Linked DNA regions of Homo sapiens. The gene in region 1 interacts genetically with each later gene. Each region holds a gene or a part of one and is shown on either strand. Other genes may lie near its edges.

The links. Genes that interact genetically often act in the same process or in processes that back each other up.
Region 2: changes in ACTL6A (region 1) and GEMIN5 together harm fitness less than expected from each alone (positive genetic interaction), as found in Homo sapiens cells (one large-scale study listed by BioGRID).

Annotation. Positions count from the first base shown.
Region 1 is NC_000003.12:179,579,133-179,584,459, forward strand, and holds part of ACTL6A (actin-like protein 6A), read left to right. Parts: intron 1-1,507; coding exon 1,508-1,569; intron 1,570-1,761; coding exon 1,762-1,876; intron 1,877-2,007; coding exon 2,008-2,088; intron 2,089-4,220; coding exon 4,221-4,316; intron 4,317-5,327.
Region 2 is NC_000005.10:154,885,998-154,890,061, reverse strand, and holds the end of GEMIN5 (gem-associated protein 5), read left to right. Parts: intron 1-644; coding exon 645-741; intron 742-1,684; coding exon 1,685-1,852; 3' UTR 1,853-2,651; downstream 2,652-4,064. UniProt on the Homo sapiens protein: The SMN complex catalyzes the assembly of small nuclear ribonucleoproteins (snRNPs), the building blocks of the spliceosome, and thereby plays an important role in the splicing of cellular pre-mRNAs.

The DNA of each region.
Region 1 (5,327 bases):
GGTCAGTGATATTGAGCTTTTTTTCATATGCTGTTGGCCGCATGTATGTTTTCTTTTGAAGTGTCTATTAGTGTCCTTTGCCCACTTTTTAATGAGGCTTTTTGTTGTTGTTGTTCCTTATAGAAGCTAGGTATTAGACCTTTGTTAGATACATAGTTTGCAAATATTTTCTCCTATTCTGTAGGTTGTTTGCTTACTCTGTTGATAGAAATTAATGTGTATCCAGCAAAAGAAACTAAGAGTAAAATTATATGAGTCATAATTTACTATGAGAGGGATCATATCTAACAGGTTTTTTAAAAATTATTTTATTTATATCATATACACACACACACACACACACACACACACACACACATTTTAAAGACAGGGTTGGCTGGGCACGGTGGCTCATGCCTGTAATGCCAGCACTTTGGGAGGCCAAGGCAGTGGATCACTTGAGGCAAGGAGTTCAAGACTATCCTGGCCAACATGGTGAGACCCCATCTCTACTAAAAATACAAAAATTAGCTGGGTTTGGTGCTGAGCACCTGTAATCCCAGCTACTTGGGAGGCTGAGGCAGGAGAATTGCTTGAACATGGGAGATGGAGGTTGCATTGAGCCAAGATTGTGCCACTGCATTCCAGCCTGGACGACAAGAGCAAGACTCTGTCTCAAAAAATAAATAAAGACAGGGTCTCTCTCTGTCACCCAGGCTGGAGTGCAGTGGTGCAGTTGTAGTTCACTGCAGTCTCAAACACCTGGGCTCCCCCTGCCTCAGCCTCCTCAGTAGGGAGGACTACAGGTGCATGCCACCATGCCTGGCTAATTTTTTATTTTTATAGAGACAGTGTCTCGCTATGTTGCCCAGGCTGGTCTTGAACTCCTGGCCTCAAGCGATCCTCCTGTCTCGGCCTCTTAAAGTGCTGAGATTACAGGTATGAGCCACTGCATCCAGCTCTGACAGTTTTTGCACCTAAAGATAAAGATTTTGTCTGTGTGCACATGTAATATACGAGGAAAAATTAGGATGATTAGTCATTTTTCCTAGATATTAGACAAGATTTTTCTAGAGGTCGTGTTAGTTCACAACATTTTATTAAACTGTTTTATACTATGTACAGTCATTAAAAGTTGCATAAAATGTGATGTACATGCACATGTGTATATGTAGGTAATGAAATCTTGCTTCTAATCTAGCTTATTTTTAAGGAGAAAGTGGTGTTCTGAAATTGGTTTTGTTATGCAGAACTGTGGTGCAGGGGTTCCTGCACCTGCAGTTATTTATCTCTCATTTCATAACTGTTGTAACTTAAATGTGTGTAATTAACTTCTAATGCAAATGATTAGAATTAGGTTTCTTGATACTCAGAATCCTTGTTAGGTACATTTATACTCTTGAAATGATTTACCCATCTAGAAACATGGTCCAATTTCATTCAGAAAAGTATTTAAAATATGTTATAAAAGTATAGATTACAAAGATAAATCTCAACCTTGTTTGTTACTTTTTTCTTTTACTCACAGTGTGTTATCCAGGATTTTCAAGCTTCGGTACTTCAAGTGTCAGATTCAACTTATGATGAACAGTATGTTTTCTTATTAAAATGTATACTTTATAAATGAGGAAAGGATTTGTTTAAAAAATACTTAATTGAATAATGTTTAAAATATTCTCACTCCCTTTTTTTTTTTTACAAGTTTATAATTCCCTAGTAGTTTATAATTTTGAAGAGAATTATTTTTTGTCTTTTGTGTAATACGGTTTAATATGTTTTCAGAGTGGCTGCACAGATGCCAACTGTTCATTATGAATTCCCCAATGGCTACAATTGTGATTTTGGTGCAGAGCGGCTAAAGATTCCAGAAGGATTATTTGACCCTTCCAATGTAAAGGTATAAAAGCTTATTTCATAATTAGCCTGGCTTTTCCTATATAGGTAAAGAGCTTTTGTGGCTAAAATGTTTTGGATATGCTTTACTGTATGAAGAGCTTCCATGTGACTACTTGTTTTCTTTTGTTGTAGGGGTTATCAGGAAACACAATGTTAGGAGTCAGTCATGTTGTCACCACAAGTGTTGGGATGTGTGATATTGACATCAGACCAGTAAGTGCCAGTCTCCTGTTACGGTTTAAAGGTATCTTTTAGGGGACTGAAATGTCCCCAAATCATTGTTAGGTTGACAGTGATCTAATGGTTGTCAGTGTCATTGACTTTGAGGTTCATTTTATAACAGTATATGTAAAAAGATGAAGTACTAGAAAAGGAAAAATGTGAAACTCTAGAGCTATGGTGTCCAGTTTTGTAGCTACCCGCCACATGTGGCAATTTAAATTTAAAATAGATAAAAACATAAAACTCAATTCTTCAGTTGTAGTAGCCTCATTATAAATGTGGCTAGTGGCTGCATCAGACAGCGCAGATATAGAACATTTGCATCATCACAGAAAGTTATTGTAGACTGCGCTAGAGATTTCCTGAAATGTGGCAAACCAAAATATGTATTGTTGGTGATTTTCTTACAGATAGCACAACTTCTACTTTTATTTTTCAGGAAGGCGTGGTTTAAATTATATGAGTAACTTTTACATGAAGTTTATTTTAAATGCTCTTCATATTTTTTGTGCTTTGTCAGGTTTTAAATACTAACTCCATATTATATACTTCACTCATTATCAGTGATAGGTTCTTGGAGACTGCAACTTTAACTGAAACGATGTACAGTAGGTCCTTGAAGGACATTGTTTCAGGAAAAAAATTGGTTTTGTTACATGACATTTTGCTGAAAGTCAGTTTCCAAGGTCATATTGATGACATTAAATGAGGACTTACTTTATCTTATTTAAACCCAATTCAGCTTATCACCCACATACTGCCTAGATTTTGAGTAAATTAATTTGCTTAAAGCATAGTGCTAATAACTACTATGTTATTCAAAAAAGGCTTTGAGTGGCTATGAAAATCATACTTTATTTTACCTTTATTTCACCTGGTAACCTAGTAGGCATGTGATGTTTCTAGGACAATAGTAGTATAAGTTTGGGATTTTTTTAGCGCAAATACAATTCCACCTTTCGGGGAAGGTAATTGAATTGAAGTATATTTATTGCAACAGTGATAACTGTTTTTAGTGAAGTTTCTCCTTTTAACTAATGAGATACTTTTGCATTCCATTTTCTACTTCAAAATTTAGATGATTTAGACATTTGAAGTATGTTTTAAAAATAGGAACTTACCCACTAAAACAGTTTGACATTTAACTTTCTGATGCATACATGCAAATTCAAAGTAAATACACTGCTTATAAGTAGTAATTTATTTTTATTTGGGAAGGGCTTAGCATATGTGTTTTGGAAAAGCTCCCATGTGCTTCTGATGCTTACCTCTGCAAAAGAGAAAAGTAGCAATAATTTTGGCGAGGAATATGTTCAGAGTTTATCATTGTCTGTCATAATCATAAAATAATTGTCTAATTTTGAATATCCTAACTTACAGATAAGCATTCTTTTTCAAAATATTTGTAATTTTAATTTTTGGCTGGTGGTTGCAATTAATATTTCCAGATGAGCATTCTTTGAATATCCTAACTTACAGATAAGCATTCTTTTTCAAAATATTTGTAATTTTAATTTTTGGCTGGTGGTTGCTATTAATATTTCCAGATGAGCATTCTAAGATAAAGTCATTATAAAATGTACTTCTAATTAAATATTGGCAGCTATCTGCCAAAAAAAAATTATGATTTTTAGAATGATTCCTTTAAGTTAGTGGTTCTTAAAACTTTGTACACATTAAAATAATCTTGGGAGTTAAAAACCATGCCTGCCAGGTACAGTGGCATGTAGTCCCAGCTACTTGGGAGCCTGAGGCAGGATTGTTTGAACCCAGGAGTTTGAGGCTGTGGTACGCTATGCCTGTGCCCGTGAATAGCCACTGCATTCCAATGTAGGCAATATAACGAGACCCCGTCTCTAAAAGTAACCTTGCCTGGATCCCATCCCCAGACATTTTTATTTAATTGCCCCTAGGAATTTGTGTTTTAAAAGCTCCTTAGATGAGTTGAATGTACAGCCAGGATGGAGAATTGATGGATTAAGCTATTAGTTCTATATAATAGTAAAACATTTCCAAAAAACGAAAGGGAAATTGTAGTAGAGCACATGGTTATATTTGTAGTTGTATTTAAAACTTTTGGAAACATATGGAACTAATTGATTTTTCTTGTATTTTTATCCTAGGGTCTCTATGGCAGTGTAATAGTGGCAGGAGGAAACACACTAATACAGAGTTTTACTGACAGGTTGAATAGAGAGCTGTCTCAGAAAACTCCTCCAGTAAGTTCTGTTTGTTCTTTAATGGTATTCTTCAGTCATATATTTCCTCACTGATGGTGTAATTTTGTAGATAAGCGTCCATTTTTCAATAGATACATGATATTTTGTGTGTGCCTGGTATAGTATCACTAAAGTTAATATCCTTTAATCGTTTTCCTAGTTGACATCTATTAGTTTCTCTTAAATTATTTGAATCTCATTTATTAATATTTAAATATGTATAGTCTGCTAGGCACTAGTCCCTGCACACCAAGGGCTCAGTCTACTAGGATGGTTAGACATGCAGAAAATGATGACTGTAACATGCTCAACAATTCAGTATGTCATGAACGAGGTGCTGTTGGGAACACCAAGAAGCCACTACTTAACTCTCTAGGAGTATCAGAGGATAGCCTCCTGAAGAAGCTATAGTTTGAATGAATAGTTCAACTCATTGCTAATTTATGAAAGGATATCTAGATGGAGGGAATAAAACCATTTACAAAAATACTAAGAGAAGACAGGTATGTTCCAGTAATTCAAAGTAGTTGGCTTCTAGTCTTTACGTAAGTGGGGAAAGCAATATGGCTAGAAAGATGGATTAGTTTCCTAGAGCTGCCGTAACAAAGTACATGTTAGTGGCTTCAAACAACAGAAATTTGTTGTCTTATAGTTCTTGAGGCTAGAAGCCTCAAGGTGTCAGTGGAGCTATGCTGAATCTCTAGGGGAAAATACCTCCTTCTTCACAGGATAAAATCTAGCAGTGGACTGATGAGCTCATGTTTGTTTTAAAAAGATCAGTGGGTATATTATAATAACTTTTAAAAGAATAGAAAAACTCGGTTTGAGAAGGTAATTTATATAGTACTTCGGTAACAGAATGACAGTTATAATCTTTTAACTTTAAAATTTCTATCAGCTGGGCGTGGTGGCTCACGCCTATAATCCCAGCACTTTGGGAGGCCGAGGCAGATGGATTATGAGGTCAGGGAGACCAGCCTGGCCAACATGGTGAAACCCCATCTCTACTAA
Region 2 (4,064 bases), on another chromosome or scaffold:
CCACTGTGGAAAACAGTACAGCAGCACTTCCTCCAGAAATGTAAAATAGAATGACCATAGGATCCAGCACTTCCACATCTGGGTATACACCCAAAAGAATTGAAAGCAGGGTCTGAAATATGTGCACACCTGTGTTCATGGCAGCATTATTCATAATACCCAAAACACGGGAGCAACCTAAGTATCCACTGACAGATGAATGGATAAGCAAAATGTGCCATATCCATACAATGGAATGTCATTCAGCCTTACGAAGGGAGGACATCATGCTGAGTGAAATAAGCCAGTCACAAAAAGACATATACTATATGACTCCACTTATATGAACTACTCAAAATAGTTAAATTTATAGAGACAGAAAGTAGAATAATGTTGACAGGGGCTAAGGGAAGCAGAATGAGAAGTTAATGTTTAATGGGTATAAGATTTCAGTTTTACAAAATGACAAGAGTTTTTGGAAATGGGTGGTGGGGATGTTTTTCACCACATTATGAATTTATTTAAAATCACTGAACTATGTATTTTTAAATGGCTAAGATGGTAAGCTTTATGTTATATACATTTTACCACAGTAAAATAACAATGGGAGAAAAATGTTACCCAGGGCAAGACATACAATTTACACCTTTTATTTTTTTCACTAGTAAAGAAGAAAAAAATGAGCCACTTTCTCTGCCTGAGTTAACCAAAAGGCTTACCGAGGCAAATCAGAGAATGGCGAAATTTCCTGAGAGCATTAAGGTAAGAGTTAAAGCAGTTCATTTGGTAAAGCATCACTTTTTGTGTTATCACTTGACTATACCACATTCTTATAAAGGTCAGCTACCTCTCTGTTCAGTTTCTAAAATCTCTACCCATTCATATGTGCTTAAGAATTTAGAATCCAGGCTGGGCGTGGTGGCTCACGCCTGTAATCCCAGCGCTTTGGGAGGCTGAGGCTGGCGGATCATGAGGTCAGGAGATCAAGACCATCCTGGCTAACATGGTGAAACCCCGTCTCTACTAAAAATACAAAATATTAGCCGGGCGTGGGGGCAGGTGCCTGTAGTCCCAGTTACTCGGGAGGCTGAGGCAGGAGAATAGCATGGAGGCAGGAGAATGGCGTGAACTCAGGAGGCGGAGCTTGCAGTGAGCCAAGATCACGCCACTGCACTCCAGCCTGGGCAACAGAGCGAGACTCTGTCTCAAAAAAAAAACAAAACAAAAAAAAAGAATTTAGAATCCAATTACTTTGGTTAGCTAGAATGTTTTGTGAGACTAGAATTATCGATCACACAAGTAATTTTATACCTCAATCTTCAGAGAAACCAAATAGATTTAATAGGTAAGAAGTAAAATTTAAATTGGTGCCATGTATTAGATAGCTTACAGATGGACAGGTCTTTTTGGCTGTGGGCCCAAATATTAATAGAAGCACCATTTTTAAGGGTGGATTTGCATAGGGCTGTAGAAAGAGATTGTGCCATTGAGAAGGACATCGCAGTAGCCATCCTAGTTTTGAGTGTCATTTCTCCTTGGAGTAACTGTTGAAGAGAAAGACAGGACATTGCCTTAGGAGACAGCTGGCTCAGCTGTGTCCAAGAAGTGTCTATAGATGAACCTGAGTGACTGGTGCCTTCTGTGCAGGTGTTTGTGGCTCTTCTGCAAATGCTTCCTTATTCATCCTCATGTCATCGTCTTTCAGGCCTGGCCCTTCCCAGATGTGCTGGAGTGCTGCCTCGTCCTGCTTCTCATCAGGTCCCACTTTCCTGGCTGTCTGGCCCAGGAAATGCAGCAGCAGGCCCAAGAGCTCCTTCAGAAATACGGCAACACGAAAACTTACAGAAGACACTGCCAGACCTTCTGTATGTGAATTTTCACACACCTTGAAGAAACTGCCAAATTGAAAATGTTTGACATCTTTCACCTCTGCAGTTATGCCTCACCAGACATTCACTCTGGTCCCTAGATGTTTTTGCAGTAATCCAAAAGAATACAAACAAGGATTAAGTTTGAATCAACCCTGCCTACCCATAGACAACGGTGGATCTGACTTTAGACTCAATTGTGGTCTCCTACTGGAGGGAAGATCATGAAAAGCCCACAGTAGTTATTCAGAACTAACACCTGCAGAGTGTTGGTCATCTCTACAGCCTTAGGCAGGTTTCACCCAAAGAGGAGAAACTTCTGTCGTCACCCAAAGTGTTACATGCTTAAAACACAAGCTACCTTTGTAAATACTTCATCTGATCAGAAGTGTGTCATGCTTGTTTGAGATGGAGTTGCTGCATTTTAGGACTATTGATACCTTTTTTTAATTGTTTTTATAATATTTAATTTGAAAGAGGAGACCCTTCTCTCTCTACTCTTTCATAGACTGAAGTTTGAATATGAAATAGGCCTTAACCATCATGTTGACTCTCCTGTCAGAATTTTAGGTTGGAAATTTGGTTTTATTCTTTCATGTAATTGCTTATTTGAACAGATCACTTACTAAAGCTTTAGAAGAAGTGATTCAAATGTGTGTTTTCCCTTCAGTTTTATAACAAATGGATTGATGGCAGTCAAATAGCTCAGGAATAAATTACTGTTTCAATGGTTCTTAAACTTTCTTGGATCATAGGATCCTTTTGAGAATCAGATTAAAGCCAAAGATACTCTTTGGAGAAAAATGCATATTCCTAATTTTGCATAGATGACCTTTGGATTATTGGACTCTGACTATTGGGACCCTAAATACTATTTAATTATAAATCTTTTTTTTCTCCTCCTTGGTTATTTAAACAGTTGAACAGTGTCAGGAACAGATGTTTCTGTAATGTCACAGTTGCTAGCATGGGAAAATCAGAGTCTGGCATGGGTGTAGGAAGGAACACTCCTTTCAGATAATTGAACTGTTTTCTCTAGGATTCATTGTGAAGGCTTTTCTGCTCACGTTTGTAGTTTATTTTTCAATTAATTCCTAGGATTGGAGCTGTTGGGACAGTGAGAATGAAATTCATTTACAGGAAGTCCCAGGAAGGAGAAAGTTTGAGGCAGTTTTCAAAGACGTGTATGTGCCTAGCATTAGAGTTTAATAAACTCACAAAGGGAAATACTGTAGAATTTAGATCCTCACAGTTCTTCATACAGTGAAGTGAACTTTAGGAAGACGATGCTTTGTTACCAGGGATGGAGAATCTTTCTTGATTGCAAAGACATAAATAGGCATGGCTAGGTAGAAAACCTAGCCTAGTTGGTAGGACACCAGTTCTACCAACTGCTAAAATGAACTTTACTTACAGAGGTGGAAAAAATATATACTCCCTTCCACTTGAGTAAAGAGTGATATTGTTAAACTAGAATTCTAAATTCCTTTGTGATCTGTCAGAAGCATCACCTGTGGGTGGAGGAGTCCTGCACACTCCTCAGTTACTGCTTTGGTAAGAACAAGATTATCTATTTGAGTCCAGGCATGGTAGCTCATGCTTGTAATCCCAACACTTTGGGAAACCAAGGCAAGTGAATCACTTGAGGACAGGAGTTTGAGACCAGCTGGGCAGTATATATGGAGGCAGTATATATTTGAGACCAACATTTGGCAGTATATATGGAGGGGCTGAATTGCACTCAGTTGCCTGGTGCTATGGTGCACGCCTGTACTCTGGATACTGTGGAGGTTGAGGTGGGAGGATTGCTTGAGGCCAGGAGTTCAGGGCCAGCCTGTGCAACATAGCAAGCTCCCATCTCTATAAGTAATGAATAAACTTTTTAAAATGAATTATGGCCAGGCACAGTGGCTCACACCTGTAATCCTAGCACTTTGGGAGGCCAAGGCAGGCGGATCACCTGAGGTCAGGAGTTCGAAACCAGCCTGGCCAATATGGAGAAAACCCATCTCTACTAAAAATACAAAAATTAGCTGGGCATGGTGGCACATGTCTGTAATCCCAGTGTTGGAAATAAGAGCTCAGAGTCACAAAGAAAATGAGCACTCAAACAAAAGACTTCTCAGCAAGGCAAATTTACGTCCGCAGAAGGGTGCTGCTGCCTGCACCAGTCACAATCACAAGAGCACACTGAACAAAGGAGAGAAAGGTTTTTAT